Linked DNA regions of Homo sapiens: all the other regions are reported to be linked to region 1. The links are microRNA targets in miRTarBase. Many come from high-throughput screens and were not tested one by one. Region 1 holds a microRNA gene; each other region holds the end of a gene's coding sequence.

The links. The annotated mature microRNA hsa-miR-202-3p reads AGAGGUAUAGGGCAUGGGAA and lies in region 1 at 2,650-2,669, opposite strand. An mRNA with a match to its seed (bases 2 to 7 or 8) in the 3' UTR can be bound and repressed. Matches are read on the target gene's strand: a 7mer-m8 pairs with bases 2 to 8, a 7mer-A1 pairs with bases 2 to 7 and ends in A, and an 8mer does both.
Region 2: miRTarBase lists RAMAC as a target of hsa-miR-202-3p. Seed matches in the 3' UTR shown: 7mer-A1 at 3,054-3,060 and 7mer-m8 at 2,420-2,426.
Region 3: miRTarBase lists CALU as a target of hsa-miR-202-3p. Seed matches in the 3' UTR shown: 8mer at 2,085-2,092.
Region 4: miRTarBase lists NUCB2 as a target of hsa-miR-202-3p. Seed matches in the 3' UTR shown: 7mer-A1 at 2,704-2,710.
Region 5: miRTarBase lists USP47 as a target of hsa-miR-202-3p. Seed matches in the 3' UTR shown: 7mer-A1 at 3,114-3,120.
Region 6: miRTarBase lists SLC38A7 as a target of hsa-miR-202-3p. The part of its 3' UTR that is shown has no 7-base or 8-base seed match.
Region 7: the mRNA of SOX6 is a reported target of hsa-miR-202-3p. Seed matches in the 3' UTR shown: 7mer-m8 at 1,493-1,499.

What each region holds. Positions count from the first base shown.
Region 1 is chr10:133,244,889-133,248,967 of GRCh38, forward strand. It overlaps MIR202 (microRNA 202), which reads right to left and starts at 2,732; the gene lies at 2,623-2,732. It overlaps MIR202HG (MIR202 host gene), which reads right to left and starts at 2,997. Exons shown (of 2, transcript NR_108079.1): 1 at 2,903-2,997; 2 at 1,591-2,162. RefSeq lists enhancers at 1-621, 1-805, 2,374-2,888, 3,405-3,919 and a silencer at 2,169-2,288.
Region 2 is chr15:82,989,259-82,993,337 of GRCh38, reverse strand. RAMAC (RNA guanine-7 methyltransferase activating subunit) reads right to left here. Exons shown (of 4, transcript NM_031452.4): 4 at 2,281-3,457. The coding sequence ends at 3,271. It also overlaps a transcript of C15orf40 not described here. Among named protein-coding and RNA genes, the nearest start is that of RAMAC, 5.1 kb to the right of the region's middle.
Region 3 is chr7:128,768,408-128,772,486 of GRCh38, reverse strand. CALU (calumenin) reads right to left here. Exons shown (of 7, transcript NM_001219.5): 7 at 1-3,424. The coding sequence ends at 3,320. It overlaps OPN1SW (opsin 1, short wave sensitive), which reads left to right. Exons shown (of 5, transcript NM_001385125.1): 5 at 1-2. Among named protein-coding and RNA genes, the nearest start is that of OPN1SW, 5.3 kb to the left of the region's middle.
Region 4 is chr11:17,330,808-17,334,886 of GRCh38, reverse strand. NUCB2 (nucleobindin 2) reads right to left here. Exons shown (of 14, transcript NM_005013.4): 13 at 3,904-3,985; 14 at 2,676-3,475. The coding sequence ends at 3,468. Among named protein-coding and RNA genes, the nearest start is that of NCR3LG1, 19 kb to the left of the region's middle.
Region 5 is chr11:11,955,732-11,959,731 of GRCh38, reverse strand. It overlaps USP47 (ubiquitin specific peptidase 47), which reads right to left. Exons shown (of 28, transcript NM_001282659.2): 28 at 1-3,731. The coding sequence ends at 3,557. Among named protein-coding and RNA genes, the nearest start is that of DKK3, 51 kb to the left of the region's middle.
Region 6 is chr16:58,663,710-58,667,788 of GRCh38, forward strand. It overlaps SLC38A7 (solute carrier family 38 member 7), which reads right to left. Exons shown (of 12, transcript NM_018231.3): 12 at 1,400-3,778. The coding sequence ends at 3,676. Among named protein-coding and RNA genes, the nearest start is that of SLC38A7, 19 kb to the right of the region's middle.
Region 7 is chr11:15,969,021-15,973,099 of GRCh38, forward strand. It overlaps SOX6 (SRY-box transcription factor 6), which reads right to left. Exons shown (of 16, transcript NM_001367873.1): 16 at 1-4,079. The coding sequence ends at 3,789. It overlaps MIR6073 (microRNA 6073), which reads right to left and starts at 601; the gene lies at 513-601.

The sequences.
Region 1 (4,079 bases):
GGTCTCAGAGGGCTTCCTCTTGTTCCCAGGCCAGGAGGACCCTCATTCCCAGCCTGGCTGTCCACAGAAGCCACAGTGAGCCACTCCCCCATGGTGCCCCTCAGCCCCCACCTACCATTCACAGGACAACGGCCTCAGGACCGGGGGGCTGTGGCCAGGAGGCCTCCGTTTCTGGGACGCCTTCCAGCCCCGTCCTGGCCCCTGTGCTCCTTCCAATGCCCTCAGCAGGGTCTCAGTGGCTGGACCTGATACGTGGGCATGTCTTGGCAAGCCTGGACAGCCACCTTGGTGGGGTCTTGGCAGGAGCCCTGCCCATCTTCCTGGGGGAATTCATCCCTCTCCCTGCCCAGCAAGCCGCCCACCCTGCAGTACAGGTGAGGGCACACGGCCCAGCTCACCCAGCCCAGATCCCAGGGAGGGCATAGCCCTCAGAACCACAGCTCTTCTGGGGAAATGGGCACCATACTGGAGAGTGGGGCCTCTCCTTTCACAGCCCAGCAGGTGCTGTTAATTACACCGCAGCCTTGCAGGGACAGAGCTGGGCAGGGTACGAGCGCAGAGTGAGGCGGAGGGACGGAGCCAGGCGGGGTACGAGCGCAGAGTGAGGCAGAGCCTTTGGCTCCCTGGATCCAGCCGTGCCTGCATCCCCATTCTGCCGACACTGTCTGGAGTAACAGCTGCTGCTGCATGTCCGCACAGCACAGCGAGGTAATACCTGCTTTATCTGTGCAGCTTTAAAGCCCTATGTTCAGGTGTCCTGTGGAGAGTGACTCGAAGGCCTGCAAGAGACTCCCCAGCAGGGCCGACCTCCACCGTTCCCTAGGGGGCAGGGGGAGCAGCCGAGCTCGTTGGGGTGGGGGGCGTGGCTGCCCTTCCACATGTGGCCTGCGGCCCCCCGGCCGGAAGCACCCCACCCCTCTGCCTGCTGCCTGATCTTTCCCCTCGGACACCCCAGCTGCGGGCTGTGAGGGAGGTGGGAGGTGACTATCAGATGAGATTAGTGCTAGGCTTGGAGAGGAGGCGCAGCCTGGGGAGGCAGCCCCTGATAACCGGCCTGGGGGCCTCTCAGCCAGCTCATTGCTCCATTTGCTGGGCTCATTGGTGATAAAGGCTGTGGCCTTCAAAGACCTGGGCGTGGCCCTGCCGGCTGACGAGGACTCTGGCTGAAGGGTGGGGCCTCCCCGACTCCCGTTCAGGCCTCCTTTTAAGACAGCAGCCGACTGTCATTCTTTAAACAGGGCTGATGAGGGACCCCCTGTCCATTTTTCTTCAGTGGGAAGTCAAGACCGCAGTCCCACCCTGGCCATTGTGGAGGCCTGGAAGCTGCGGGGCCCCCGCCCAGGACAGACCAGTGCCCCCCACCCTCACAAGCCGTCCCTCTGGGCTCTCCCAACACTGCCGGCCGGTCCCAGGCTCTGGTCATCAGAAGGGTGGCCCCAGACCGGTGCCCAGCCCAGGCCCCCAACCGAGGCCCCAGGAGCCGTTTCATCCCCCCGTGTTTATGCATTTTTAACTAAGTTCCCCCAAGTCCACACGTGACTAATGTGACGTCCAACCACCGTGAACGAGAGGAGACCAGCACGACAGAGCTGCTTTGTCAAAATTTGTATTTATTGTCAAAACTTTACCACATCTCACACATTTAAATGAAATTAGCTCTACTGAAATTTCTGACCAGAAAATCAACTCATACCCATGATTACAAAAGTAATAAAGGTGTTAAGAAGCAACAGCCAGCCGGGCGCTGTGGCTCACGCCTGTAATCCCAGCACTTTGGGAGGCCGAGTGAGGTGGATCATGAGGTCAGGAGTTCAAGACCAGCCTAACAAGGTGAAACCCTATCTCTACTAAAAATAAAAAAATTAGCCGGGTATGGTGGCAGGCGCCTGTCGTTTCAGCTACTTGGGAGGCTGAGACAGGAAAGTCGCTTAAACCCGGGAGACAGAGGTTGTAGTGAGCCGAGATCGCGCCACTGCACTCCAGCCTGGGTGACAGAACGAGACTCCATCTCAAAAAAAAAAAAAAAAAAAAAAAGCAGCAGCAGCAAAAGTGCACAGACCCAGCGTGCACGCGTCTCCGCCACGCCTCACTCCCGTCTGCGCCTGGATCCACCGCCACCCGCTTGTATAAAAAGTGGGCCCCACACGGTGCAGCTTCGTAGTCTGCAAAGAAAATGTCCAAAGAATGAGTTGTGGATCCTCCCAGCCAGAGCCCAGATCCCAGGCACCCCGCCCCACTTCCCCCGACCACCAGGCGGCCCCAGAGCCCAGGTTGTCCCTCCCGCCACCTCCTGTAATGGGTCCACCCCCAACTCCGGTCAGACTGGTCACAGAGCACCGCCCAGCTCCAGCCCTCCTCTCTGCATCCTGGGTCCCAGCTCAGGGGCTGCAGAGATCAACCCAGGGCAGAGGCCTGGACCACGTCCTCCCCAGACACTTCCAGAACCCACACAAAAGCACACATCCACGTTTCCCTTGTTTTAGAATATTTGGCCCCTTTCTGCCCCAAGGATGTGGGGGTCAAAGCCCCGGGGCTCCCGGCCGAGGAGAAAGGAAGCAGGTGGAGTCCCAAGTCAGGAGGCAGGTGCTGCTGGAGCAGGTGCAGGTGCACTGGTGCAGGTGCCGCTGGGGAGGACCCGACCGCCCCGTTTTCCCATGCCCTATACCTCTTTAGGCCAGATCCTCAAAGAAGTATATGCATAGGAAAAAGGAACGGCGGGCGGCTCTGAGGCGGGCCGGCTCTTCAGCACTGGGAGGTGGCTGTCCTGGGGGAGGGTCCCGTGCCGGGCAGCAGGGAGAAGTCGGGACTGAGGCCTGGTGGGCACGGAGATCCTGTGGGAGTGAGGAGGGCAGAGCCAAGCCAGGGCCGAGTTCCCAGAGGCAGGCCTTGGGCCTCGTCTTACCTGTGGTCCAGCCTCCTGGGCCGCTGGCGCTGGGTAGCCCGTGAGCCTCGTGAGCCTGGGAGGAGCGGTGGAGAACTCTCTGAGCCGGGAGTTCTGCTGCTGCCGAGCGAGCTCCACATTTATGCGCAGGGGAGACCTTGGCCGCCGCTGTCACATGCAACCAGAGGGCTGCTCTGTGCCAAGGACCCCGTCGCACCCCCGCACCTGCCAGATTGGGGCACAAAGACCTGCTGTGAGAAGAGTGCTGAGCCAGGGCCCGCCGGGCGGGCGGGCGGCGAGGGCTGTGGGCCGGGGGCTGCTGGCCCGGGAGCTGGGATGGGGCCAGCCTGTCCCCCCGCCTCCTCCAACCCTTATCTCCCCACGCGCTTCTGCTTGCGTCAGGGGCCCGGAAAGCACACGTGAGCAAGAATCGCTTGTCCAGGGAAGGGGCCGACTCTCCTTCCTGGGCCTGCCCAGCTCAGCAATAAGCAGCACCTTGGGCTGCACCCGCAGCCTCCTGGCTCACAGGGACTCTCAGAACCCCCAGCCAGCGTGTCCAACACTGTCCTGGCCACTGGGAACCAGACCCCACCCCCAGGGTAGGTGGCCCTGCTTGGCCTGGGGCGGCCTCCACAGCTGGGGCTCCCTGAGGATTCACGGCATCAGGCGGACACTGGTCCAGTGAGGCCCAGAGCCTTCCCCGGGCCACAGAGCCCGCGAGCACGTGGAGAGGGGCCACGCTCTGCAGCCTTGGGGGCAAGAGTGCAGGGTCGGAGGGAGAGGGCCCCTCAGGGACAGCTGGCCAGACCCACAGCTGCCCACACAGAGCGAGACCACACAGGCAGGCAGACACCCTCTCCTAGGGCCAGGGAGCCCCCGGCCGAAGGGCCCAGGCAGGCAGCAGAACTCCTGCAGGTCTGGGGCTGTCCCTGTGTCCCAGGCTCAGGACACAAGGAAGAGGCCCAGAGGAGGCCAGGGCACAGGGCTTCCACAGGTGGCCAGGGACAGGGCTTCTGAACCCCAGCCAGCGGTCTCTCCCCAGGACGTAGGCAAGTGGAGGCTGGTGAAGGAACAAGGCTGAGGCCTCAGAGGCCTCTTCAGTGACCATGTCCTCGGGGAGACTCAACGTCGCTAGGCAGGCCCGTGCGGGCGCCTGGCCCCAGCACCTGTGATCTGTAGGGCCAGAGTCTCAGGACTG
Region 2 (4,079 bases), not on the chromosome of region 1:
GTCAACACTACGCTTTACAATTTACCAAATACTTCCCTCCCGTTGATTCAACAAATGTTTATGCAGCACCTATTGTGTCCTACTAGGGATTTAATGGTCACAACTCTATATTCTCAAGTTCTTCCTTTGATTATTTATTTTTATAATTCTGTGAGGGTGGCAGGGTGGGTATTGTCCCCATTTTTACAGCTGAGCCAATAAGCTCAGTGTTTACATGATTTTCTCACGGTCACATATGTTTTAAGCACAGAACTGGAAGCTAGGATTCCTTATACCTAATGCCATATGTTATTACAACAGACTACTTGAAATTAATTCTATTTGACACTATTTTATTTGCTCTCACTCTTAAATTATCTTTAAGCTTTTTTTCATGTTATTTTCTGTCTTATGAAGCAGAAACTGTACCTTTTATTTCTTCCTGGTTTTAAGCAGATCAGGGGCAGGGGTACAGTCTGATAGTAACTGCTGTTAAAAAACAAAAACCATAACAACATAGATTATTCATGCAGCATGCAGAATTTACTCATGTTAAAAGGTTTCCTCCCATTTTTTCAAGCACGGCTGATACTCAGGACACAAGCAGCCTAGCTGTGTTGGGTGTTAAAACATTTAAATACTGTTGGAAAACCACCTCTCTTCTGAGCTTCCTGAGAAGTACTCCTCCAGCGCTGGCCTTGGACCCATACATCTCCCTTTGTGTCAACAGCTGGCACAGCACAGAATCCTGACCTAAAGCTACAGTCAGCTATACTGTCCCAACTACTGGTCAGTGCCTGTGCTTTCTCAGGAGATGATTTTATAAATCTTTTTTTTTTTCTTTGAGAGAGTTTCGCTCTTGTTGCCCAGGCTGGAGTGCAATGGCATGGTCTCAGGTCACTGCCACCTCCACCTCCCAGGTTCAAGTGATTCTCTTAACTCAGTCTCCCGAGTAACTGGGATTACAGGCATCCGCCACCATGCCTGGCTAATTTTCGTATTTTTAATAGAGACAGGATTTCACCATATTGGCCAGGCTGGTCTCGAACTCCTCACCTGGGGTGATCTGCCCATCTCAGCCCCCCAAAGTGCTGCGATTACAACTGTGAGCCACCGTGCCCAGCCTATAAATCATTACTTTTAAGAGACAGCATCTATCTAGCCCAAACTGGAGTACAGTGCCATGATCCTAGCTCACTGTAGTCTTGAACTCTTCCCGGACTCAAGGGAGCCTCCTGCCTCAGCCTCCTGAGTAGCTAGGACTACAGGCGTGCACCACCACACCCAGCTAATTTTAAAATTTTCTGTAGAGACAGGATCTTGCTACATTGCCCAGGCTGGCCTCGAACTCCTGGCTTCAAGTGATCTTCCCGCCTCGGCCTCCCAGAGTGCTGGGATAACAGGTGTGAGCCACCATACCCAACCAGGTGATATTTTTGATAACACTTCTGCTTTCAGAGAAGATTCTGGGGTGTAGTCAGGACATTACTATCTAGACTAAATATCTGTAGTATCAAATCCTATCTTTATATAACAGCACTGGCTTCTTGCCTACTGATGTAATTAGGGAGGTTACAGGGAAAACCCTTACTATTAAAATTGTATTTGCATCTTAGTGTGACTGCCCGACTTATTAGGTCATTTCCAATAAAACAGTTACCCGAGAGGATGGCTCTTCAGGAAGGGAGAATAAAAGGGAGAGGTAGATGGAGAGCATGAAGTACCTGGAGAAGTCAACCTCGAGGGCCTAGAGTGGGGTGCTAAGAGAGAAGGCATTAAAAATAGGTTTACGAAGATGCCCCCGTTTTTTTTATGAGATGAAGTCTTGCTCTGTTGCCCAGGCTGGAGTGCAGTGGCACGATCTTGGCTCACTGCAACTTCCGCCTCTGGGCTTCAAACAATTGTCCTGCCTCAGCCTCCCGAGTAGCTGGGATTACAGGCATGTGCCACCACACCCGGCTAATTTTTGTATTTTTAGTAGAGACGGGGTCTCATCATGTTGGTCAGGCTGGTCTCGAACTCCTGACCCCAAGTGATCCGCCCACAGCCTCCCAAAGTGCTGGGACTACAGGCATGAGCCACCATGCCTGGCTGGAAGACGCCTTTTTAAATATATATATTTTTTTGTCACTCTAATAAAGTCAGGAAGGTGCCTGTTAATTCCTTTGACCTATGTTGAAATTTGCACTCTTAATGTTACTGTTAAACCAAATAAGCCCTTTTCAACAGATATGAAGGACAGCATAAAAAAACCCAAAAATCTCATTTCACCATATTAATAAATGGGCTAACTGCCAGAACTTGGGAGTGAAGATGCTTAAATATTTTAAAATTTTTATTTGAATGAAATCATTGTAATAATCATTAAAGTGATTTGAAATAGAATGATCTCTGTGAAAGGAAGTTTATAGCATCACTATTTATAGGAGAGAAAGCAGCAGAGGTATGCATCTGGAAGTGAATATAACATTGTAAAATCAGCCCACATTAAATACCAAAAAAGTAAGAACCATCAAAATGCAGCATTATTTACAGGATTAAAAAGTGTGAACAGTACAGAGTTAAACTTTCTTATGTGTGAATTTTGACCTGCTATGTTGTTAGCAAAAAGCTTTAGTGTTTGTATAAAATGATGTGTACCCTTATCCCAACCACCACCAGATCAAGACACAAACTGACAATGATTCCTTCCTTATTTTACAGCTTTATTACTGATTTCCCTCTAAAAAGAGACTCAAGTGTGGAGCTGACTCATCTATAGATTAAGGAATCACAAAGTACCATAGTCACTTAACAAATGCAAAAAAAAAAAAAAGCAATTGTTTTACCTTTCAACTGCTGATGTTATGTACAATCTATCACAAAAAGCATAGCTGTGCATTCATGAGCTGATTATATCAACCTCTAGAATTTTAGAAACGAGCACATCTAAGCATATGGATACTCTCTTACCTTACAAAGTAAAAGCATTTTCTATTTTAAAATTTTTATTTCTGTGTAAAACAAAGAATTCCTAGAGGTCAAATAATATACCAAACTTAAAGCACTATTAAGTCATGAAACAAAGAAGATTCTGAGGTAGAAGTCAAGCAATATAATCCACAGTTTCAGGTATTCCCAGCAACCATCGCATTTCGCAAGTAAGATCTATTTTTTTTAAAGTCTCAACTTCCAAAAAATCAATAATCCATTCTGTAAAATCAGATGTAAAACTATGACCAACAGAAGACACCCAAACTTTTCTCATGGTAACAGAGTAAATGCTTTTACTAAAAGCTGCCAACATTTCTATCAGTAGTAACCGTAAGGAGGCCGCTGGTTGTAACCATAATGTCCATATTGCTGGGGATAGTAAGGTTCTTGTCTGTGTTGCGGGTAGTTGTTACCCCAGGATCGTCCATGCCACTGATTGGATCGATTGTCACTTGGCCACCCCCATCTGTTGTCCCTGCCTCTGAACTGTCTGTTGTCTTGCAACCTACAACAATAAAACAAAAAAGATCTTTAAACTTCCCTTGTTAAAAAAAACATATGACAAACCCATAGCAGTGCTTCTGGTTTCTCATTCTAATACACAATAAATAAGACTAAAAAACATTTTTCACAATAGAATGTTATAGTGCCAGTTATTCAAAACTTTCCTAAGATTGAAATCATTCTTCCAGTATTATACTAGGTACACTTTACAGAGACATAGGCAGACTATATAACCAATAGAATAGTTCCAAATTAAAGTGAAATCTATTCAATTGTACAAAAATGGTATGGTAATTTATTCCTTTGACTATTTTGAATTATTAAGTAAAAGTAACTTCCATTTGTAAACTTCTTCCTAAAGTAAAATCGAAACAATGTTTTCTTTATGGAATTGAACAAGCTGTAGAAAACTCTAGGTTTTTAAAGTAGATTTGCATTGAAAATATTAGTCTACAGAAAAAACATCTAAAAACAAAAAAACACACGCACTTGAACAGCAAGGAAAAAATACATGGTGCTGAAAAAATATTAAAGCAAATATTTATCAGAAATGATGTACCAGGTACTGTTATTAGGTACTAGGTATGCCATACCAAAAACACTGGTCCCTGCCCTCACTGGCC
Region 3 (4,079 bases), not on the chromosome of region 1:
AAGTTTCTATTGTCTCCGTCAGAAACCAAACTACTAAAAACACAAAAAAGATGGTAAAAGGAGTGATGGCAGTTTGGGGAGTCAATTTTTCATTTTCTTACTATTGCCTTCTTGCCTACAAAGCTACTGTTTCCACTGGTCTATTTCAGACCACCCAAAGGCCATTTCAACAATCATCAGTTTCTACTCCTAAGTGGCACCATTCACAGCACTTGGAGAACTGATTTCTACATACAAGGCAACCAAAAAGGAATATGCTTTAAGTTTTCAGTGTATGGATACTTTCCTTTTTAGTAACTTTTTTTTTTTTTCCTGCTGGGGATCCATTCTGAGATGATATATGCTGAATTAGAACAAACTTAAGAAAACACTTTAGAAATGGGAGAGACATAAAGAAAAAACAAAACAAAACAAAAAAAAAAACAAAAAAAACTCAGTGGCCCCAAATATGAGTTTGAAAGAACTTTTGGATAACTGCTACAGCTTTGGCAGGAACAGCCATGTCCACAAGCCCCTGAGCAAGCACAAATTATTCCAGGTGCTTCCTCCCCGTTGCATTTGGCTAAACCTTTATATTTGTCTTAAACTGTGTGTTTACTAAAGTTAATAGTTTAATTCTCTCGAGGTTCTCAAAATGAATTTGCATGTTTTAATAACATTTGTAAACAATACCAAAATGTTAAACAAAATTGTTTTACCTTATGCTCTATAGATAAACGTGTGTGTACATTCAGAATCGCTTGTGTTTGGTATCAGATAATTATATAACGAGCAGCAGGTCTCTCCAGTTATACGGCCTAATGGAAGTAAAAAAGGGTTATGGCTGTGGTGAGAAGGATGCTAGAAAATACCAGAAAACAGGGAGAAAAGAATAATCATTTAGGAGAAGGCAGTGCTGTCTCTGAGTTTGGGAGAACTTCGAGGAGAGTTCCCATTCTGACATTTTAGAGCATCCATAATTCTAAGCTAGAGTTCTATTTCTTGGAAAATGAAGGTCATACATACCCCATAATGAATGTAAACAGTTTTATTTAGAAACAGATAGGTACCTGTTCGCATTGCAGAATATAAAACTTGGTTTACACTCTATAAAAAATAACCAATATCCAAATTCAAGAGAGCTAGCATTCACAGAACACACAATATGGGTGTGTAGCTACTGTTCACCAGCCTCAGGCTTGATTTAAACAAACAAACAAAAAAAAAATTTCAAAGGGATCATTCAAGATGACCGTATAATGCTTGCTGCTGTCTTTGCAGATTAAGGTTTGCTTTTCAAGTGCATGATTTTAACATAAGGCCTGGGCTCTCTGCACCTAGTGAGGTGTGAGGCTCTCTTGCCACACAGTTCACACTCTCACTTAACTAAGCCAGAGTTGGTGGCATTATTAAATTATCACTGGTCTTCTTAATAGTAAAAATGGGGAACCCAGAGGGCAGGAAATTTCCATTACCCTATATTGGGGCTAAACTTAAAAGAGTATATCCACTATCAAGAGCTTAGTACAAAGGCTGGGGTGAAGTTACATTATACCTGGCTTTTTACCATACCAGGGAGCCCACCTCAACATGACTGTGGAAGACCAAAGGATATACCTAGGTTCAGATTATAATAAATCACCCAGCACCACCTGAATGTATTATCCACAAAGATATAGCAATAATAAAGGTTATATATACATATATTTATCTTGGTAACCTGAGGGCTAAAAACGTGGAATACGATAATTCTTCTCAAGAGGTCCATCTGTAAGAAAGGGACCCAAAAGGACAGTGTTTGTGTTGCATAAAATATGGGTAAAGTGGAGTTGGGAACAAAGGGTGGTTTCTTTAGCTCTTTCCACATCTCTCTTTGATAAGGACTGAAACCCTGTTGATTCATGATAAACGTTTCCTTTTTTTTTTTTTTTGGCAGCGGGGAGAGGGAAAGAGGAGGAAATGGGGTGTGATGGGTCAAAGGCAGGAAAGGTAAGCCATGGTCCTCAAACCAAAGAGCCCTCTCTGTAGGTCCTCTGATCTTTGAGTGTGAGCTCAAGCTCTCCAGTGGACACAGAAAAAGGCCTGGTAGTAAGTGGTTTGCATTGTGAGGTATGAGGATCCCTGGTAAATTCAGCAGCATGTGGTTTTTGGAAATCAGCCCACAAGATAAGAACACTGCAACCAAACTCATAACTAATACTGCTAATTTAACTATTGTCCAAAAGAGAAAGGGAAGAAGAAAAAAATCCCCACTCTACTGGGAGGTTCTAGGCTTTCCTATAAGTTATCCAAATAGTCTTTTTTTAATCTCAGGGTTTCTTAAGAGAATTCCCATTCAGTGACCATTTCTTTCGTTAAAGGCACTTTCAATGACATGATTGGAAAGGAGTGAATTTTAATTGTAGTGAAACCAAGATTAATTCCTTGGCACACCTGGGAAGAAGAGGAACCGGATGGGGGCATTTACAGTGATTTCAAAAGGCAAATAATTAAGTCTTGAGCATTTCAACAGATGCACACCCAGAAAAAAAATGTATGCCCCGAAAACACTTGTATTTTTCCTTTAGTTTTCCAGCTGTTTCTATCTATAGCTCTGCAAAGAGATCACATTCACTACTTGATTGATTTTCAAGACACTGGCCCTAACTCTTCCCACCACAGCTGTGCTTGACAAAATTAGCCAACAGTCAGTCCTACAGGGGGAAAAAGAAGAAAATCAATTTGGGCCAAGCTTTCCTAGAGCAAAGGGATCTTTCCTTGCCCAGGTAATGGCAGGTTCAGTTGCTGGACCTATAGCAACTGAATGTAATATGTGGCCCCTACTACCTATGAAATGTTGGACTTTTTGACAGGCAAGACTAAGTGTTCTCTCTCTAAATATAAATTGTGGAGCATATATTTTTTTTCTTTCCTCTCTCCTGAACATTTCTTATTGATCTCAGGCTTACAAAATTAGTTAAGTGAGAATTATTAAAATCATAAAAGGGGTTGAGAAAGAGTAAAGAGCTAATGTTTGTCTACATGTGTGAGTTGAGGATCTTGATCCTTCATATCATACTCCCAACCAGAGAAAAATACAAAAATAAACACGCCATGTTAATACATAATACAAAGTGTAAATCTACAAACACAAGTGTACTAATTAGAGTTGTTCCTCAGAAGCACGGCTTCCCTCCAGTCCCTCAGAGAGGAGGAGGAATGGGGACGGGATGGTTTTCATTACGCCTTTTCATGTCTTAAAAAGTTTGTAGTAACAGTCTCAGTAGCGCAAACAATTTCATGTGAAACCAGAAGCTGTAAAAATAAATTACTTTTGAGGAAATGAGGGTTCCTCCGTAGCTCAGAACTCATCATGCCGTACTAAGGCCTCCCCAAAATCTGTGGCCTGGCTGCCAACAAATAAGTCATACTTGTCAACGATCTCCTCCTTGGTAAGCTTGCCATCCTGAAAGTAGAGATAGCAATGAATTGAAGAAGAACATATTTCCCATTAAAAATTCAGAAACACTGTTATAGAAGAATTGGGGTTAATCAGAAGTTAAGATTCTCATTTCTACTAAATTAAGTGTGAACTACTCAGCCCTCATTCCCCCTACATACATACGAAGAGGGAAGAAAACAGCAATTACACATTCCTTGTTTTTTTTTTTTTTTTTTTTTGAGACGGAGTTTCGCTCTTGTTGCCCAGGCTGGAGTGCAATGGCGCGATCTCAGCTCACCGCAACCTCCGCCTCCCGTGTTAAAGTGATTTAAGTGATTTTTCTGCCTCAGCCTCCCGAGTAGCTGGGATTACAGGCATGCGCCACCACGCCCAGGTAATTTTGTATTTTTAGTAGAGATGGGGTTTCTCCATGTTTGTCAGGCTGGTCTTGAACACCCAATCTCAGGTGATCCGCCTGCCTTGGCCTCCCAAAGTGCTGGGATTACAGGCGTGAGCCATCGTGCCAGGCCAATTAAACATTTCTTTTATCAAGAAAGTTAAAAGTGGAAGGGTGGAAAGAATATAACACAACAACTCAATGCTAGAGATAAAGGTTTGTTTCATGAGGAGAAAACTCTCCTTTTAGAGGAAAATATGGAACATCTCCTAGATAGGGATG
Region 4 (4,079 bases), not on the chromosome of region 1:
TGAGATAGAGCCTTGCTCTGTGGCTCAGGCTGGATTGCAGTGGCATGATTTCAGCTCACTGCAACCTCCACCTCCCAGGCTCAAGCAATTCTCCTGCCCCAGCCTCTTGAGTAGCTGGGACTATAGGTGTGCACCATCACACCCAGCTAATTTTTGTATTTTTAGTAGAGATGGGGTTTCACCATGTTGGCCAGGCTGGTCTGGAACTCCTAACCTCAGGTGATCCACTCACCTTGGCTTCCCAAAGTGCTGGGATTATAGGCGTGAGCCACCATGCCCGGCCTAGGGTAGCTTTTAACATGCATTCCTGTCACACAGAGGTAGGAAAGTTGAACATTATATTTCCCAACCTCCTTTGCAGCTAGGGTTTCAGATATGATTGGTCCAGTCCATCAGATTCACTCACTTGAGACTTTTACTCAGAGCCAAGTAACGTGGGGACAGAGGCAGGAAGAGATGTATCTATTTTTGCTGGCATAAAGCATGGCAGAGGTGGTGTGGCTCTGGAACTGGCAACTGTTCAGCAGGCAGCTTCCTAATCCAGCAGGCAGCTTCTTGATTGTTCTAAAAGCAGCAGCTCTTTCAGCAGCCTACTCTTGTGACATAATTCCTAGAAGCTCAGCCTAGATCTGTTTCTTCAACCCTCCCATTGATTCTGTGACCTATATATACTCATTCATCAATTCCCTTCTGTTTAATAGCTAAAGAAGATTTCATTGCTTACAGCCAAGAATCTTGACCTATACAGAATTTGGCAGCTAGAAGTAAAGCACAGCAAGTCGAAGGCCCTAAATCTGGGGTTGGCTTAGTTGAGGAGGTAGGGCTTTGGGCAGTGAGACTTCTTGCCAACAGAAGTCAAGGTGAGGTTGAGACTTCCTGCCACAGAGACGAAGGTGGTAGAACTTCAGAGTGCTAGCATGTGTTGGCTGCTTCTTGCCTCTTTTCAGCAAAGCCCTACAAGAGATATGTGACTTGGACTAAGATTAACAAGTCTGCAGTGACGCAAGGGAAAAATAGCTTTGCTGAGAGAATTGCTCTTTGTCTACCATATAAATTGACCAAGTCCCAAATCTGGAGCCCTGAAGAATTGAAAACTGTACTCCAAACTGAAACATTTATAAGTAAAGGCTCTGAGGGAGCTACTAAAACTTTCTCAACCTTTTTTAAGAACCTTCCCTTAAGAATTTTCTGCCAAATAATAGGAGCCATCCTAGGGGAAGAGATCAGATTAAGACTGTTGCCATTCCATGCAAGCCTACAGTCTCAAAGGATCTCAAGGAGGTACCATTCCTGTAAGAACAAAGGGGATGGAGAGCACACAGAGGCCAGCAAGTAAATGATGAGGTTCTTTGTTAAAAACAATGTATTTTACCTTGGTTAATACTGTCCATGTAAATGACTGAAGACAACAGACCAGAAACTTACTAAAGTTTTAGGAATCCACTTGGCCAAGAAACAGAACAAAACAACAACAAAAACCCAAACCTGGCCTGCAATAGACTGTAGCTGTTACGGATCTATACTCTAATTCCCAAGCCTGCCCCCAGACTCACAATTATAGGAAGTAAACTGCTAAGGCTGCCCAGCCTCCAAGAAGGGTATACTTTCCAATGCCCATTCAGATTGTGTCTGAAAATTAATGTACAATAAAAACCTCCAAGAAAGTAAAACCAAGGCCCCCTGAGGACATTAGGTAAAGGAATTCCTCTCAGAAAGGTGAATCAGGGGTTGCCTGATAGGCAAACCAAGGAATATATTCATGAACTATAGCAGAGAGATTTAATTATTTTTGCCAAGTGGTACTTTCAAATTGCTATGGATCAGTGGCCACTATATTTCTATTTCTCCCTTTTTCTAAAAGGTCAATTTTAGGGATCTTGGGCATGGTGGCTCACACCAGTGATCCCAGTGCTTTGGGAGGCTGAGGTGAGAAGATTGCTTGAGACCAGGAGTTTAAGACCAGCCTGAGCAACATAGCAATACTCCATCTCTACAAAAAAAAATGTTTAGCCAGGCGTTCGTGGCATGTGCCTGTAGTCCTAGCTACTAGGGGGACTGAGGTGGAAGGATCACTTGAGCCCAGAAGTTCAAGGCTGCAGTAAGCTATGATCACACCACTGTACTCTAGACTGGACAACAGAGTAAGACCCTGTCTCTAAAAAATTTAAAAGGTCAGTTTTCCTGCACCTTTGCATTATGCATCTGGTGCTCTCAGGGCAGAAAACTTGTCTTTCAGTTTGTAGGTGGCCAGAACACAAGGAGCCACACCCTAACATGATGGAGGGGACTGTCTCCAGATAGCATGGTCTTTCATCTAGTATGCAATAATGGGCTGGATTTCTGGTGGTTTCTCTTCAGGGAGAGAGGGGTGAGTGTTTTCTCTCTCGGAAGAAGAAGGTACACAGAATTTAGGTAGCCAACAAGGCTGGCTGAGTTTAAAATCCAAAGTTGCCTACCAAACATTCCCTCTTCCCTTCTTCCTTAGTAAAAGAATCCAACTTTTAGCTGGTCACATTGCCACATTGACTTCTCAGCCTCCCTAGCAGCTAGGTGTGGCCATCAGTGTGACCCAGTTCTGGTCGAAACATAAGTTCAGGTGCTGCTGGTTCTGGAAAATGGCCTCAGGGAAGCTAACTCAAGCAGAGAAAGTCCAGTTTTCTTGCCTTCCCCACTGCCTCCAGGAGCAAACTTGAACAGTGAGAGTGAGGTAATCTGAGGATAAAAATCATGCACTGAGGATAGCAGAGCAGAAAGATAGGAACCTGGACACCACCTACTTCTAGACTTATGTAAGAAGAAAAACTCCTATTTAGTTTAAACCACTGTTATCTTTGTTTTTTCTGTTATATGTAACATAACCTAATCTTAAATGATAAAGTATAGAGCAAAATAAAAAAGAATGAAAAATGACCTGAAGTGGTAGCAAAAGTGATTCAGGTGAAGAATTTCTAGCAGTTGAGGTTGCCAAAACTAGAAAAACGTTACCAGGAAACACAGGGAAATACTGTGGCCTTTCCAGAATTGTTAATATCAAACAGACATTTATTGAAAGAAGGAATGATAAGCACCCATAAAAGAATACCTATGTTTACGAGTAAGTGAGAGCAATCTAATTTAAAAGCAAGAGGCAGAGTTTTCTCACTTAAATAGTTCCTAATAGTTTCACTAAATTATGGCATAAAGCCACTTAATTAAATCATTAAAGGAGAACAAAAAAATAAATAAAAGAGCCGTGTGAATGTGAGAGCAGAGAGCAGACAGTGAGTTTGTTTTCTTCCTGGTTCTGATAAACTTCAATCCTTTAATATCTGTGTCCCAAAAAAAGTGTTTTCATTTAAAAAGTATCTCCCTTTATTTCAAATATGCTTTTAAAATATTTATTGAGCAGAGAAAAAGGAAGGGAGCTAAAAAGATGAAATAGATGTTGAGTTAACAGCTTTCTTCCAAGTTCTGGTGGACTTCAGACTTTAAATGTCTGTTGGAAAAAAGAAAAAAGTTCTTATTTTAAAAGTATCTTCCTTTATTCTAAATGTTCCTTCATATACAAATATACTTGTTTTAAAAAATATGCTTAGCTAATCATAGATCACAATTTTAAAAAACATATTCTCTGGTAAGATTAATATAATTAGAAAGAATTACAAATAAAGTTGAAATAAATCATTTTACCATAAATATGGTTATCAAATTATACAAATGATACAGCACTTAAAATTTGCTGCTACATAAAACTTTTGGAGGCATTTTCATTTTTCTATAATCTAAATTGCTCTAATACCACAAAAAATACACAAAAAATAACATAACATCTTAATGATTTGAAATTATATTTGTAATAAATGTGGATTTCAATTGATAAAATAATTTATTTTCCTAAATAAATAATCAAACAAAATTACACACGTGGCTCAAACTTCAATTCTCCAGCTGGCCCTGATGGAGGAATTCCTTGTTGTAATTTTTTTTGTTCCATCTGCTGTATGACCTGGTGAATGGAAAATGAAAGTTAAAAGTATAACTTGATTTTCTATCATATGTGTGACCTTTGACAAAGCACAACAAAGTAAATGAAAATTGTT
Region 5 (4,000 bases), not on the chromosome of region 1:
TCCTCTCAACTCTCTTTTGCCCTCCTAGCTTGACCTACTGATGGCTGCACTCTTTTCTAAATAGTAACACATGCTCCAATGCATGCTTGAGTTTGTGCAGTATTCTTGTTTCTGAAAGTCAAGTTGTGACAATTAATGCTGTATCTAACCAAATGATCACAGCCTCCCTCTTCCCCATGGGAACTACAATCAAGAAGCATCTTCCAATTTCATGTACACTAAACCTAGGTGGCCACAAGCTTCATTTGGGCCATGAACTCCTTTGAAACCCTCATAAAAACTGTCCTACTATCTCCCTGGTAAATCGCACATACACAGAGTTTTGCCTTTCAGGACATATGGCCTTATAAGATTTTGACTACTAGTGACCAAAATGTTGATGTTTTTCAAAAATTACACAGAATTGTTAAGATGGAATAGTTTTATTCAGCAAACAAAAAACTTGCTAATTCAGAGTATCCTCTAGTCCACGTAATGTGGTTTAGACTACATTTGCAAAATTAGGGCCTTGACGCTGAACAAAATAAAATCCAGAGGAAGAACTACAGTATCCAATCAAAAAGGAAGTACTAGCAAATGAACCAGAATAAAAGACTTTATTGTATTCCATACATTCACAGGTCACTTCCAGATTTAGTAACAACACTGCAATGCTATGATGCTGTGCGGTCATTTAGCTTAAACCACAGTGTAAGTTGGTAGCTCTCTCCTGCTCTCTTGGCCTCTAGATGTATCACAATACAATTCCTAACTGTGGCCTGGCAACCAATGCTTATTTCATTGGATTATTTTCTGACTGGGACATGAGTTCATCGCATCTTCCCAGAATTTTAAAGTACCTTCCCTTACATTATAAGAGATGACCAAACACTCTAGTGTGAAGGCTGCTTCACACACTGTTCTTATCTATCATGATTGCTCTTCCTTACATACACGTCCCGTACAGATCAGCTACACACGGCATGGTCCTGAAACCACAGCTTTTGTTTCTTTGGCCAGAATGCACCCCTCACCTTGAGTGCCCGCCTTAGAAACACAGGTACTTGGTTCTCACAGGGTGTGCATGGTTGACACAAGTTCATCTGCCCCACGGTAAAAGCTCTTCAAAACCTTTGCATGACTTGTGGGGAGCAGGGTCACAATTTGTTGCATGTGACCTGCCTCAGCCTCAAAAGATAAGAGATCATGAGGCTCCACCGCCCCCGGGCTCAGGAAACTTGATCCACATCGCTAGGGCTCTGCCTGTTAGGTTATGGATGCTCACCTGACTCTCTGAAGCAGAGGGAGGCTGACACAGATTAGCTTTTATTGAAATTATTAAAGTGCAACTTTGTGTTTTCACTCTATCAGGCACTGAAAAGCAAGAAGCTTTTAATTTTTTCTTTTCTATAATGAAATATATTTTCTTTACTCTTATTTGTATCTGTAATACACCTGCAATTAGAAACAGCAGTTAAACATAAAACAAAGAACAGAGCAGAAGGCACAGTCTAAAGAGTGGGTATCAGAAGAATTTTACCATTTACGCTCATAGGAATACTAAACCAAACCCAATCAGACCAAACTCCAAAGCCCATTGTGTTTACAAGTCTGCCTCTTTTGTGTGATAGCAAGTCAGTCCTTTAAAGCAGAAACCCCATTTACTAACCCTACATCCCAAGTAAGCAGGCCTGTATCAGAACCAAACAGCTGTCCTCTTACATCAGAAAATCTAAGTGATCTGAAAGACAATTCATCACAAGTGTTTCCAATTTTCTTCTGAGAACATCACCAATCCCACTAATGCAAACTCAGAACATTACTTCAGTCAAATTTCGCTAAATGCTATAGCTTTCTTCAAATAAAAATTAGCCAGAAAAATACCTTAGAAAAGATTTTTTTTTTCATTGTGGATTCCAGGAGACTTTTAAGACATGGAATTCTCGGTGATTATATTCAAATGGCAGAGCCACATTTGCTAACAGTATTTTCTAATTTTATCTTTCTTATAAGAAAAAAAGGGTAAAAATCGGATCTGAAATACTGACAGGGTTCCCCAAAGTTAGATATTAACACAGCTTTTCATTTCTCTTATGAGAACTTTACTGTAAATATACCTTTATCATAGAAATGAGATATCCAATACACATTACAAAATGTCATATTTAAAGATGACAAATCTATTCTTAACCCAGATTCTTCATCCACAGAAGTTTAATGACTAAAATAACACAACAGAATGAACAAATGTTTTATTGGCATGTTCATTGTTGTAAACAGCATCTGGCATGAAAAAGTTTTACCAAAACCTTTTTTATTGATTTTTATAAATTAGATGGTATGTCAAAATTTATGTAGAATTGTGTTCATTGAGTACTTTTATTTAGCAAAGCAAAAACTTGCTGATACTAATAAACTCTGCAATGAAATCATGTTGACTGCATCAGTCTGTACCATGACCTGACCTCATTAGCAAGTTTATTCAGAACAATGTTAAGACGTTTCCCAAAAGTTAAACTACATGTAACTACAAATTGACTCTAAAAATTAAAACTGGACTTACAAGCATTCTAGAAGATTCAAACTTGAAGTAAATCTTCAAAACTAGATGTACAAAGAGAAAAAAATTGAAGCCGCTGAACAGAGAAACCTCATTAACAAGGGCAACGACAATCCTATGGGACCTAGCACTGAGGAACCTCACTGAGGATTACATTTACATAGATTGCTATACTTCTCAATGTACACAAATGTACAGAATGAATGATACGTGAAAAGAATAATCATGGCAGATAGTTGAACTGCAATTATGATAACTCAACAGGATCAATTTTATTTACATGCTGAATAAATGAATGAAACATATTCTCTACATCCATAACTTAAGTACAATCAGTTATAATTACAACACTGCAGCAATCTGAGCTGCCACCTGCTGGGATCGGTCTAAGGGAAACGTTCTGATGTTCCAGAATAATGTTCTTAATACTCTGCAAAAAATGAAACAAAATAAAAACACAACTTCACAATTCCTTACTGGGTTACGGCTGGTTCCAAGAATTTCTTTTCTTCAGCTCCTGTTTTTGCTGCTTTCCAAGAGTCAACACACGTTGGATTTACTTCTGAATTGTCAATGAGGTAATGTGTGCATCAGTGAAATAAACAGAAAATTCATTCATTCATGGCCTTTGCACAGCTTTTATTATTAAGCTATGAGCATCCTGTTTGAGGCTAGTTTTACTAGCGGCTATGTGCACATTTGTCCGCAATAAAAGAAGTTTACTCATTCCCCTGTCCCCTTTTCTAATAGAAGGTTAGCTTTTTTTGTTGTTTTTTTTTATTTTTTTGCACATCCCTTTTCACTTTACAGTACATTTGACTATAGTGCACAACATGATTCCGAGTCAAAACAGTGGCCCATTGGGCACTGAGCTTCTGATTGGTGTAGGGCAGTCCAATCAGTGCTGGTGTCACTGGGTTACCCCAACCATGTCCGGCCAAAATGGCACTACCCAGTGGTAGTGAACCATCTAATTAAAACCAAAACTCCCCCAGGGAAAATGCTACACTATCAGAGTCAGTCTTGAGTCAGATCTTTATTTGGTGCTCCATCCAGATATATTTTTAGTGCTTTCTCTTTACGAGGTGAGTATGTTACACGATGTCCAGTCTTCTGGAGTCGACTGCTTTCTTTTTTCATCAGTTCATTTCTTTGCTCATCTGTCAATTCCATTAATTCTTCTGTTTTATCCCTACATATAAAATATTAATCACATATTAGTCCAGTAGAGCCCTCCACCTCTATTAATGTATGCTTGAATGCTATGATGCTCCTCAGCAAGATAATGAAATCTGTTACTGGTGAAGTAATATTATTTTATATACTGAGATGTCCCAGATTTCTAAGGTGTTAATCACAGGAACATATTGCTTACTTCTAAAAGTGGCGGAGAATAACTTCCATGTTATTAGCAGTAGTAACAGCTATCATTATTGAACATCTATAATAGGCACTGTGCCA
Region 6 (4,079 bases), not on the chromosome of region 1:
TTGGCTGTTTGCACTGGAGTACGCCTGTGGCGTAGACGCATCCTTTCCTTCCTTCTGTTGAGAGACGGTTAAACTCAACCTCGTTATTCGCTCCCTAGTCAGGCCCAAAGCCCAAAGCCACCCTACCCTTCGAGCCTTTCTGAAGTATTTCTTCCTTGCAGGGTCAGTCCCCCACTTTTACTAGGAGTTGGAGCCTGACCTTCACTTGAGTGTGGCTGGAGCGGAGAGGGGAAGTGTGGTGAGAGATGAGTTGGTTAGACTTGACCCTAAAGGCAAGAGGGAGTCATTTAAGAACCTCCCAACACACAGTCAATGTCTGGCTACCTTGGCCACTTTTCAGTTCCTGAAGTCATGTTCCTCCCAGCTCAAGGCCTTCGCACATGCAGTTTCCATTGCTTGGCAAAGTCTCCCCACCTCTCTTTACTAATTCCTACTCATCAGTCACAGGCCAGCTCAAACATCACTTCCTCCAGGAAGTCTTCCTTGACTCCCCAGACAACTTTCCAGCCCCCAGACTAACACACTGTATTTTCCTTCCTTGGCACTTAACCACAATTTGGAAGTGTATATTTGTGTCATTGCTTGCTTAGCATCAGTCTTCCCACAACTAGGCTGAGAGCAGTACTGGAGTCTGTTTTGCTGGTTTTTTTTTTTTTTTTTTTTTTTTTTAAGATAGAGTTTCACTCTTGTTGCCCAGGCTGGAGTGCAATGGCGTGATCTCGGCTCACTGTAACCTCTGCCTCCTGGGTTCAAGCAATTATCCTGTCTTAGTCTCCCAAGTAGCTAGGATTACAGGCATGCGCCGCCATGCCCAGCTAATTTTTGTATTTTTAGTAGAGACAGGGTTTCAGCATGTTGGCCAGACTTGTCTCGCACTTCTGACCTCAGGTGATCTGCCCACCCTGTTCTCCCAAAGTGCTGGGATTACAGACGTGAGCCACTACACCTGGCCTTTGCTGGTTTTCTTGCCAGCACTGAGCGTGGTGACTGGTGGCTCCATAACCAAGACAGCTGGGACCTGCTCAACGCTCGCCTCTGAAAAGATGGGGGTGGATACTCAGGAGTTTAAAGCTCTTGCCAAGATCTGAAGTCAGGGGGACAGTCTGAGACCACAAAGGCACAGGAAAGACAGTGAGGGCTTAAGTGAAGGCAGAGGTCGCAGGATTGGAGACTGCGATACATTCCTAAGTCACTGGAGAAGGATAGGTAGAATGTGGAAGAAAGCAGGGGTGGCAAGAGCCACTTGCAGGTCCCTGCTTGGTAGAGGGAGCATGGCGGTGCCATTCCGGAGATAGGGGTCAGAGACAGTGACATGCCATCTACACCTCCTACCCCAGCCCTTCTTCCTCCTGGCAGTGGCCTGGACTCTGTCCCCAGGATCAGACACAGGGGACACGGCTCAGCAGCACAAATCCCTTTTATTAACCATCTTCCCTTTCTCGAGTATACACAAGTAGAAAAGAAACAGTGAAGTACCCCGATAGGGAGGGTGGGGAGAGGATGGGAGGGGGCTCCTGAGGTTAGGACAAGAGGCCAGATTCCAGCTCCTTCTCCTGACTGGTCTGTCTCTGTGCAATGACTCCACTTACATCCCTTGACCCCCGAAACACGGCACTGGGGGACTGCAGCCCTGCTGACCAGGCTGTCCTCCTAGCCCTGTCAGGGACTGGTGCTGGCAGAGCTTGGTGCTGTGCCACAGACTGACAGAAAACAGCACAGTGGGTCTGGCCCCGGGGGCAGAGAAGATCAGGCACCAAGAGGGGATGTGAGAAAAGGCAGTTTATCCATCTGGGGACTGGACAGAGGCCCAGCCAGCCTCCAACCAGCTTCTGCTTCTTAGATCGGACTGCCCTGAGTGGCGGGCGGCTCGGCAGGGGGTCCCTCTCGTACCCTTTACAGAGGTTTTGGGGAAGAGGGGACAAGGAAATGCTAGGGGCTCCAGGTGGAGGAGGAAGTCTGATTGGTGCCTGGGATTGGCCAAAGTGAGAGGGGGCAGCTGAGGGGCTGAGGTGGTCAAAACGGGAATATAGTGGGGAGTAGGGTGGGAGGTGGGGAGATAGCCTATCTCTTCGCCCTCTCTGGGGTAACAATTCCAGTGTGACATCAATGTGGCTGGCCACTGAGGCCAGGCCTGATGGACGTGCGTTGCTGAGGAGGCTGGTAAGAGAGCCCCCACTGTCCCCAATTATGTGCGTGGGAGAGACTGAGCTACACAGTGAAGTGAGATGGGAGGTGAAGAGGTAACGGGGTGAGGGGGAAGGAAGGAGCAGACAAAATCCAGACTGGAAGGGAAACTTCCAGGCCAGTGTGGCAGGCTCAAATGCTGCCCATCAGTGACAACCCAGCTGCCTTTTTGTTTGTTTCTGTTTTTTTGAGATGAAGTTTCACTCTTGTTGCCCAAGCTGGAGTGCAATGGCACGATCTCAGCTCATTGCAGTCTCTGCCTCCTGGGTTTAAGCGGCTCTGCTGCCTCAGCCTCCCAAGTAGCTGGGATTACAGGTGCCCGCCACCATGCCCGGTTAATTTTTTGTATTTTTAGTAGAGATGGGGTTTTGCCGTGTTGGCCAGGCTGGTCTCGAACTCCTGACCTCAAGTCATCTGCCCGCCTTGGCCTCCCAAAGTGCTGGGATTACAGGCGTGAGCCACTGCGCCCAGCCCTGCCTTTTTTTTTTTTTTTTTTTTTTGTCTCTGGGTAGTCACGCTAGGGCTGGCAGGGGAGGAGGCAGAGGAAAGGCAGGAAGAAGAGAAAACATCACTGAAAAAGAAGGTGTCGGGGAGGTACACCCTGATTCTGACCAGCCCAGCCCACACAGAGGGTCTGAAAGGTTCTCAGCCTTCTCCATCACCCACCCTGCGGCCTCTGAAAAGAGGGGCCCATCTCAGACACAAAAGCAGATACTCCCAACCTTATGGGGAAAGCTAACGGAGGAATACTCACAGCACCGTGGCACGGGACGGCCCTTGGCTTCAGAGCCGGGCTGGCACCGTTTGTAAACATTAGACCTGGTGATGTCTGGGGATGGAGGAGGAGAGGGATGCCCAGCCTGGACCATCAGGTTTGATGAAAGAGACAGGGTGGGGCCCCTCAAGGCCTGGGAAATGTCTATTAGCTATGGGAAAGAGGCTGACAGGTTCATGGTGGGGGTTGCCCAGGAAGGTGTGGACAAGGTCTGAATCTACCTGACTATGCATTTGCATGACTTCAGTGCTACCGTTGGAAGTGGCCAGGCTCCTGAGGAAGCTACCACTGGCCTGGGGTAATGAGCACAACCCCTACTCAGGACAGGGTGCTCTGTGGAGGATGGTGGCCTTCTGTCCATAGTCATTCTCCAGAGGGAAGTCAGACTGGATTCTTTCTTATGAGATCTACCGACTCTCTTCACCCGTGGATTCCAGGCATGGAGAAGTTGAGAACTGGGAGAGGAGGAGGGGTCCTCTATGATGTGAGACTTCCTGCCGCCATCCACGGCACTGCCAGGACTGGGGAGCAGGAAGGGGACTGGATTTGAGCTGTCCAGAGGTGTGGGGCCTGAGTTTGCCCCAGTCCCTGGAAGAGGATGTCCGGATGTCATCCCACCAGTTGGAATGATCGTGGACTAAGAATGGCCCCATAGCTCTAAGAGATGGGTTCCTGCGACCAATGGCAAAGGCCTTGTGTTCCCTGGGAGGCAGTGGTTATGCCAAGAGATCCACAAAGATGGCGTTGGCTGTGGTCTGGCCGAAGATGAAGGCTCCCAGGGTGACCAAGAGGACTCCGTAGCTGACCAGCACCCACCAGCTGTAGAACAGAGGGTGAGAGAGGTCTGATCAGTCATCCCATCCCATGACTGCAGACTTCAATATATATAACTGTTAATTACTGTAATTATCGCACTTCTCCTGTTGGTAGAGCACTTCCTACTTCCCAAAGACTTCAATACAAAGGTAGTGTGGGGCCAGGTGTATTGTCCCTAGTCCATAGGTAAGAAGACCAAGATCTAATGGGAGTAACTGATTGTTCACATCATGCCACGATTCGAATGTAGGCATCCTGATGGAAAGATGTTCAGAAAAAAGCACGTCACATGGAATGTGGTCTA
Region 7 (4,079 bases), not on the chromosome of region 1:
ACTTTTTTCCTTTCTTCCTTCTTTTCTCCTTTTCCTTCCATTCCATATGGCTATTTTTTTTTTTTTTTTTTTTTGGGAGAGGATTGCCTGGCAGTGTCCCAATTCTAAGTGACAAGGAGAACCCTGACCCTGTAAGTTCTTTAACAAAATGGAGATAATTTTTATTTTTGATTTGAAGATACTATGAAATAGGGAGCACCGCAAAAACAAAGTTGCTTAACATTCTTGAATCTAAACTGACATGACGGGACGTTTATTAACGGCCGATCTCAGAGGTGGATTTTTGCCTTTGTAGTGGCATTCATGCTTCTTGCTATTAAATGGTCACAGAACTATCTTAGAAGATTTATGTAGACTCCCAAAGCAAACTGACTGTCTCCTAACTGTAGTGGAAATTTAGTATGTCCAATCATCAACTTTCTGTAAGAAAAAAGGGAAATGTCTGGATCTGTGGACAGTGGGTTCTGAACTGCATGAGAACCCTGGTGAAACGTTTTGCTGTCCCAGCTGCAGGCCAAACACTGCTCTCTCACTGTAGCTGATAACTCACTACCCCGAGAGGCACAGTGACTCATCAACTTTCAGTTTGGACCAACATCTATGGATAGAGAACAAAAAGGAAATACATAACTTATATCTCACTAAGTATTCATGAACCAAAAATAAATTCTATTTCTATGTTATATTTACACAATTAGAAAAATCTAAAATGAGATGGTAAAGTCATATAAACTTTGTTTAAGCCCCACTGAAAATAAAATGAATTGATCCCTATGATTGTCATTCTTAATTTCCATGGATATTTAGAGCCAAACTTGGCTAATAAATAAACTGCTTATACACAAAATTTAGATTCAAATACAGCATTACTGTTTGATCCAATGAAAAAGACGTTTACAATCAGATCATTCCTGAATAGCCTTTCATTTTTAAGAACATGGCTAAAAGTAAATGAACCCCAGTACTGAGGCAGAGCTGGAGCTAAAACAAAGTGTTCATACACACATGTATTTTGCATAAATAAATGAAATAACAAGACATAAAAATGACTCAAATCCGGCAACTGTGAGGCAAGCCCACACGAGTCGAAACAGATGACTTTTGTTCATGTAGTTTTCGTACAACAGTTTCACATTAGTCAGAAGTGATAAAAAATACCATTTATATCCAGTGCTTATAACACTTACGAAACAACATCTGTGAGTGTGTGTGTTTTTTGTTTTTTTTTACTTACTATGAGCAAAATCAAGTTTCAGTCCTAAAGAACAGTCCTTTGTTCTCCACCAGCCCAGAATATTATTTTGGCATGGTCATAAAAACAAACAAAATTAACCTACTATGCTAAATGTTTGCTTTTGTGCAAAATTAATTACATACAATACAATGCTAGCCATACAACACTCTACCAATGCAACAAAATAAGAAAGAAGTGAGAGAGAGCAAAAGCAAAAGCCAAAGAGAAAGAAAAAAAACAAGAGTGAACTGAGGAGGAGAGGTATATAATCAAAGAAATCAGTAAGACAATAATAAATACTCATTTTTTGAGAGAAAAAATGACCTCCTCCTCATTTGAAATAAATGTACAAAAACAAATTTCTAATCCCCAACCAACATGAATAACAAAGAGTTCCTATCAGTACCTTAATCAGCTTATAGAGAGCACTCCCAGCTAACAGAATAGCTTGTAATTTCTTGGCTAGACCTGTTTATTGCTATTAGGCCTTGAGCACTCTTAAATAAATACAAAGGTACACTATTTTCTTCCAAGTGACAAAATGGCTCAAGAAATCTGATGGGGCCATTCCTATGTCCTGGTGATCAGATTCTGGGTTGTCCCATGAGGTGAACTATCCCATTCACTGACATTCTCCCACTAAACCTCTCTGGGGGAAGCCCCCCGATAGACAACCTGTCCTAGTTTCAGGAAGGCCAAAATGACATGGCAGAGCTCCCTGTAGTTAGGAGATGGGGAATAAAACCTCACTGCTTCCCACCCCAGTAGCATGTCTTCAAAGAAATCCTTGTGTGATAAGTGCAGTTCATTTTGTTCACACGTAGGCAGGTCCCCATGTGGCTACAGATAGAGTCAGCCAGAGGAACTCATCTGCTGCCCCCGGAGCTATCTGTTCCCCAGAGTTAACAGTAGGAACATCCCATATAGGGAATGTATTCCCCTCCTTCTCCTCCCTTACAGTTTTCTTTCATTCTCTAGATGTATCATGACTATTTGCCACCATCTTTGCTCTGAGGCTGTCATGTGGCTTTTTGCATCCTGGGGATTTTGCAATGAACTCCCTAGATGTGCCAGCTGGGACAAGGCAACTCAGTGTAAAGGTGCCAGCCCATGACAGCTTCACTGAGATTCCTGCATGGCCCACGAGCCTTGGGCTTCAGGTTTGGCCGCAGGACTCTCCTGCCTGGCAGTCACCACTGTTGAACCTTGCTGCTGAATGGAATTCAGGGGGAAATGCCACTGATGCAGACCCTACCACTTGTGAACTGAATTAGGGGAAAATTCTGGCAAAAGACTTGAGGTCACAGTGAACCTCAGGGGCATACCTGTTTAAGTGTAAGACTATATACCTATATCCCAATACACAGCCCTGCAGCCAGATACATACTCATGATTAAAAACAATAATAGGTTTTTAATAATATCTTGGTTTCAGAAATGCTTCCAGGCGTTCTGGGGACATAAAATCACTATGTACACAGGAGAAGGAGGTGAAAAGGACGGAAAAGTTCTTCGGGGAAGGAAGGTGAAAAACAAGAATTATTAAATTAATGCCACCAACAATTGAAAAAAAATAAATAGCAAGTGGACCCTTGACATTCTGGAATGAATAAATTATTTAAGATAAAATGTGTTAAGACTGAATGTCAGGGTTAAAGGCAAAGGGATAATGGATGTAGTGAGAGGTGGTCTCAGGCAGAGAAGACCACTCTGTCGATATCTGGTGTGGCGGTTGCTCTGGTGTGTGTATGTCATACCACATCACGCACTGATGGCACGTCAACAGGCAAACACAATTGGGTCCATGCACTGTGGCAACCTTGTTCATTCCTTACAATATCTTGTCTCCAGATTCCTGAGTACCTTACCATTTTCTGGAAAAAAAAATGTTGGTTTGCTATTTTATTTTAAGATGCCAAAGATTGTCTAAGACTTTGCAGTGTCTCCTTTAAGACTTTCAAAATATTAAGATTCAAAAGTTACGAAAAAGTTTGGCACATTCAAAGTTTAACTCTACAAATGGAAAATTGGAATTCCGAGGCCTTTTGAATATGCTCTACATGCAGCTGCACACGCCGTGGACTTGTTCTGTTTCACAATATGAAATCCTCAGTTGTTTTCTAAAATAATTCAGAATAAAAACACATTCACAACCTGTAGGCCGGCACAGCATACCTGAGTGAGAATGTTTAACCCCATCTAAAACAGTAACTTAAACCTTTATCAACATCCAAAAGAAAAAAAAAGTAAGACAAAAATATAAGACTTGTAAGACATCTACGGGTTGAGATAAGTTTCAAGTCCTGGTGTCTCATATTTAATATGTCTTCACCTAAATTAAAAAAACAACAACAACAACAATAACAATAACAACAAAAAACTCAAGTTCATGAAAAATCAGGGAAAACTTAATCTGTCTCACACTTTACGAAACAATTAAGACCATTCTGCTGATGTAATTGTGGAGCCACAAATGCATGCGGGCTCTTTAATAACTCTTTGTTGGGGAGGGGGGTGAAATGTCAGAGTACTTTAATTCAGCAAACAAAAACTCCTCAGTTGGCACTGACAGCCTCCGGGGCTTCATTTTCACTGCTATAGTCTGATTTGGGGTCATCTTCATAGTCATCATACATTTCCATTTCATCCTCTCCATTGATCATTTCATTTCCAGCTAGGCTTCCGCCATCTGTCTTCATACCATAAGTGCTCTGGATGACCGGGAGGCTGGGCTCCGGGCTGGCCGAGGTGCTAGAGCAGTCAGATGTCATCTGAGGCGATGGTGTGGTAGTTGCCATAGTGATAGCACCAGGATACACAACACCTGTTCCTGTGGTGATTGGAAT